Regions from separate parts of the Homo sapiens genome. Here region 2 is linked to region 1. A link means that fine-mapping ties the variant in region 1 to the expression of a gene that starts in the linked region. Tissue or cell type: whole blood. Region 1 holds a variant in brackets; the other region holds the start of a gene. All regions are shown on one strand. Distances are from middle to middle.

Evidence for each region. PIP is the estimated chance that this variant, and not a neighbour inherited with it, causes the effect.
Region 2: it holds the start of LOXL1, and the variant in region 1 is fine-mapped to the expression of LOXL1 in whole blood (TOPMed, PIP above 0.99).

What each region holds. Positions count from the first base shown.
Region 1 is chr15:73,949,951-73,952,786 of GRCh38, reverse strand. It overlaps LOXL1 (lysyl oxidase like 1), which reads right to left. Exons shown (of 7, transcript NM_005576.4): 7 at 651-956. The coding sequence ends at 950. Among named protein-coding and RNA genes, the nearest start is that of LOXL1-AS1, 23 kb to the right of the region's middle. RefSeq lists an enhancer at 1-256. The variant C/T (reference allele first, on the strand shown) is at 1,384.
Region 2 is chr15:73,925,274-73,927,773 of GRCh38, reverse strand. It overlaps LOXL1 (lysyl oxidase like 1), which reads right to left and starts at 1,312. Exons shown (of 7, transcript NM_005576.4): 1 at 1-1,312. The coding sequence starts at 990. The region is part of intron 1 of LOXL1-AS1 (LOXL1 antisense RNA 1); the gene reads left to right. RefSeq lists a silencer at 1-64 and an enhancer at 1-806.

The DNA of each region.
Region 1 (2,836 bases):
CATGATCTCTGCTCAATGCTGTCTCTCTGCCAAGAATCCTCTTCTCCCCTCCCTGCCTGGAAGGAGGCTCTCTCCCATGTGAAGGCTCCCCAGAACCCCTAGGTGCTGCCTCACTGGGCAACGCGTGCTCCCCGTTCCCTGTGGTTATGCGCTCCCTGAGGGCAGAAGCTACGATGCTCCTGCGTGTGCCCTAGCACAGCACCTGGCCTTCAGGAGACTTGAGTTCGGGAGCCTGCAATTGTAAGGGAGTGGGTGGCTGGTGGAGAGTGAACGGTGTGAGAGTGAGAGGGCCAGGAGGGGGACCGGTGGGAGTGTGAGGCTGAAGGCTGAGAAGGGGCAGCAGTGGGCACACGAGCCCAGATAGGAGCAGGGGCTGAGCAGGGAGAGCAGGCTGGTGCCGCCCACCCCGCTGCAGGGCCCTCCCCTAGTCGGATGTGGTCCCATTCCCATGCGACAGGCTTGGCCAAGGGCTCAACCCCACAGGCTTCCACGATGGGCTCAGCGCCCTCATGGTCACTGTGGTCCTGACCGGGTGGTGGCTGCCCTTTCCACATTTGGCGAGGGGAAGGATGATGCCTAAGGACATCCCCCAGGCCCAAACTAGCTGTGGCTGGCCAGCCAGCCAGCAGGCCGCATGCAGAGCCACAGAGTAGAAAAACCTTGTTTTATTCAGCCCAGACCTGGGCAATCTAGCTCTGTGGTATGGCCAAAGTATAAAAAATAAAAACCAACAACAACAAAACAACACTGTAGAGAAAAGTGAAGTATAAAATGGGGTCTGGCGTCCGGAATCCCTGTGGTTTTCATCCACGTTCGCTCCCTGAGGCCGGCAGGGAGGGATGCCCCTCCGTGCCTGTGGGTTGGGGGCTGGGCCCCTCGGCGGGAGGCTGCCCGGGGAGCAGGGCCTGCTTTGGAAGGGGAGAGATTGGCCATCTGTCCCTCCCGGAGATCAGGATCTGAGGAAGGAAAGACAGTGGGTCAATGAGGGGCTGCAAAGTAGGCCCCCGTGGCCTCCTCAGCCAGGGCGTCCCTCCCACAGCCCAGATCCCTCGTGGCAGGGCAGGCATGGGCCTACATTTCCCTCAAGAGAAAGTTCCGACCCCCTCAGCCCAGCTCCAAAAGGAGGGGTTTGATGGACTCCCACCCACCCAGGGCACAGTCTCAGCACATTCCCCTCCCCATGCCCTAGTCCCAGATTGTTTTCTAGGCCATTAGCAGAGCTGCTACTGTCTGGAAATACTTTCTTGTTTTTTCTAACTCAGTACTTTTTTTTTTTTAAGCCTCCTTTTTCCTCCAGAAACACGATGGAAACCCACAGGCGTCAGTCCCGTGGCCTTTCTGGGAACGCTCTGTCCAGCTTCCTGTGCACGCTGGCCCAGCTGC[C/T]TGCCTGCGGTCAGGGTCACAGAGACTGAGACACTCTAATAAGGCCCGGCCTTTCCAAGCACTTATGTAAAGAGCTCTTGGAAGGAAGGGCTTTGGCTCCCCCTGCTGCCCACAGGCCCCCGGGGAGCTGGGAGGGCCGCGCAGGCTGCTTCTCCATCTGCCCTGCCGACAGCCCTCCTGGCTGCTCCAGGCGCCTGGCACGTGGGATGCTGTTTCTGTTCCCATCCCCCTTTCCCAGCAGCAGGAGGGATTCCCTGCCTCCCCGAGCCCCCAGCAGCCTCCTTTGTTTCCTGGATACCCCCTTCTTCCTTCCTCCTCCTTCCCTAGAATGGCTTCTACCACTTAGGTGACCCTGGGTCTTGAATGGCTAAGACAGGCCCTGAGGAGCAGGAATGTGCTGGAAACCCAGGCCTGCTAAAGAGCCAAACTGCCAGTGATGGGACAGGAGTTCGTCCTTTCAAACATGCTGTGTGCCCTGGGGAATTCTGATCTCATTCTACTCATGAGGAACCTAATCTCTGCACTGAACTGGAGGCTGCTGTTCCCATTTTTAATATTCATGATGTGGTGGCAGCATGCTGTGAACAGTTAGGTTGATGGTAGCAACCAAGTGTGAGAGGGCTGTCTCTAAATGAGCCTGGCTCTGGTCACAGACTGAGCCCTGACCCTGGCCACACACTAAGCCCTGATCCTGGTCACACACTGAGCCCTGATCCTGGTCACACACTGAGCCCTGAGCCTGGCTACACACTGGGCCCTGACTCTGGTCACAGACTGAGCCCTGACCCTGGTCACACACTGGGCCCTGACCCTAGGTATACACTGAACCCTGATCCTGGTCACACACTGAGCCTTGATCCTGGTCACACATTGAGTCCTAACCCTTGTCACACACTGAGCCCTAACCCTTGTCACAGACTGAATCCTGACCCTGGCCATACACCACACCCTGACCATAGTCATAGGCTTAATCTCTCATACCTGCCATCCATTAATAAGTACACACTTTTAGGGAAAGATACCTCTCTGGGCCTTAAGATCTCTACCACCTTTCTCCCAGTTGATGAACTAAAGCTGAAAGCTCTAGGACTAATTTTTTTTTTTTTTTTTAATGGAAAAGGGTTGCTTCGATCTGGAGTGTGGTGGGGTTTCCTTGTGAGCTTGTAAGCAAGGGGTCCCTCTGCAAACTACTTCACATGGGGAATCAGGAGAAAGACTGAGGACCCTACCCAGCAGCATGTGCCAAAATCCCAAGCCCAGATTTTAGGCACTTCTTCTACAATGGGGGCCTAGGGACTGAAGATGGCTCCTTTGAACCAGAATCACTTCTAATCTGTGACTGTTTAATCCAGTCCACTTGAAAAGGACACTAATGATCACAGCTGCTGTTCACTGTGTGCCACTGTGAACATGCAGACATCAGGCCTGTAGATCCTCATTGCCAGCCTATGTG
Region 2 (2,500 bases), 25 kb after region 1:
GGGCGGCTCCAGCGCGCGCGGCGGCCCGTACGCCTCGGGCGGCGGGTTGGCGTAGGGCGGGTACCAGCCCAGGCGTGGGTCTCCGCCATGGGCCTGCGCCGCCTCGGGACCGGGGTCAGGGTAGGCCTGCTCGAAGCCGGGGGTGCCCTCGCTGTACAGACTGTGCGAGTAGCGGCGGTCCAGGCCGTCGGGGGGCGGCGGCGGCGGCGGCACGTAGGGCCTCTCGGGGGCCGGGTAGAAGCCCTGAGGCGGGTACTCGGGCAGCTCTTCGCCGCCGCCGTACTCCTCGTAGCGCGCCCGGGGCTGGTAGGGGTAGATGACCCCCGCCGAGGCCACGGCCGCCGCCCCCGCGCCCACGCCGCCGCCCGCGGGCCGGTAGTACACGAAACCCTGGTCGTAGGTCCGCGACGCGGGGTCGTAGTTCTCGTACTGGCTGACGAAGGGCGCCTGCGGGTAGGGGAACTGCTGCGGGTAGGAGGGCTGCTGGCGGTAGGTGCTGGCGAAGGCCGAAGCCGAGACCGAGGAGGCGGAGCCCCCGTGCCGTTGCTGGGAGACGGAGGTGCGGGCCCGGGCCATGCCCGTGCTGTCCCCGACGGCCACCTCGCGCCAGTTGTCGGGCACCTGGCCAAAGCCGAATGGGTGCCGCGCCTGGCCGCGCACGGTGTCCGAGCCCACGCGCCCCGGCAGGGGCAGGGACGGCGCCTGCCGACGCCGGGGGCTCCCGTGGCTGCGCCGCTGCTGGGCCTGGGGCGCGCCGGCCAGCAGCACCCGGGAGCTACTCTCGGAGCGCTGAGGTCCGGCCGGCACGTACTCTGAGCCCGAGTTGAGCAAGCTGTACACCTGCCCGTTGTTCTCCCACTGGATCAGCTGCCGCCAGCGGGCGGGGTCCGAGCCCTGCCCGGGCTGCGCCTGCTGCCCGTGCACCAGCACGCACAGGCAGGCGCCCCACACCAGGGCCCCCAGCTGCCGGCTGCCTCGGGCCAGAGCCATGGTGACCCCTCTGCAGAGGCCTGGTGGACAGAGAGGCTCTCAGGAGTGGCCCCCTGGGCGTGCTTCTCTTCCCACGGCCTCGAGGACAGGAAGGCTCCTTGCTTGCCCCAGCTCTAGCTTTGTCCATGCTGGCCTTGTCCCGAGCGGGACGGCTCCTCCGATGACAGCATTTCAAGGCCAAGGGGTCAGGGCAGGGCAGGGGCGGTGCCCAGGGCTGCACGAGGCTCTCCGCAGGGCACCGGGCGGGCAGGACCGCCTGTGGGCCTTACATGGCCAGCCCCGCACTGGCTGGCCGCTCGGCTGGCGCTTTCCCACTCTGAATGAATAAGCAACAGGCTGGGAGCGTCGGGAGGCTTCGGCCTCCTGGTCCGCCTGCTGGGGCCTCCTCCGCGGGGCCCTATGGCCCGCCGGCTTTTAGCTATGCGCCGGTCCCACAGCTGCAGTGCTCCCTCAGTCCCTGGAGTTCCCAGCCAAGCCACAGACCTGCCTCTGAGGAAGGGAATCGAGCAGGGAGTAGGAGGGGACCTCTGGGGACTCGGGCCTGGTAAGTGGGGCTCTGGCAGGCAGAACGGGGCTGGGGTGTCAGCACCACCCCGCCCATTCCTCTCTGCTTTGGTCACAGCATCCCTGGTCTCCACCTTGCTCACTGGCTTCTCGTTTGGGCTGGAATGGGCCTCTGACTCCTGTCTGCCCCAGCCTCCTTCCCGTACTCCCGGGTTCTCCCTTTTCCTTGTTCCCTAAAGCCAGTGCTAATTAAGACACACCCTCTTTGCATGTTCCTTCCACCATTATCCCACACCCTCAATAGGAAGAAAAAAAAAAAAAAGACACACCCTCTTTGTTGGTGGGCCTCCTCGGGGAGATGCTGAACAGGGACCACTCTCTAATTCCAGGTCCCAGGTGCACCGCAGCTCTTGGGCCTGCGAAGAGAGGCACTGGAGCTGCACCTTTTCCCTCGTGGCACACCTCAGGGGCTTACTTTCCCAGTCTGAAGAGTGGGGTGTATCCCTGAGCTGAAAAGCACTTGTGAGATCCTGGGAGAGATCAACTTCCCAGACATCACGTATGGTTTCTGTCCTACATCTCTTGGCTCTGCATAGCCTGGGAATAACTTGAGTGTACACATGGATAAAATGAAACTGGGGGCTGTCTTTGATATGGGACAGGGGTCACTGTGAGGCAGAGAAGCCAGTAAGCATTGAACAACAGAAGGGGGTTCCGGAGACCTGGCCTGGTCCTGTTGCTGTGTGGCTTAGTCCCTTACTCTATCTGATCCAGGTGCCACGGCTTACCAATGGAAGATTAGGCCAGATGGCTCCTGAGAGTGCTTTGGGAGATTCTCTGTTCCTTCTGGGAATGGCAGGGATAGGAGGGGGTCCCAGAAGTTTGAACGCTTTGGCATCCAAGAAATCACACTCCAAATACTGCTCTTCTGGCCTCCCCTGGGCTGCCTTCTCCAACCGTGTTCCTGGGAACCGAAGGGCAGAAATTGCCCTCTTGGGCTTATAAA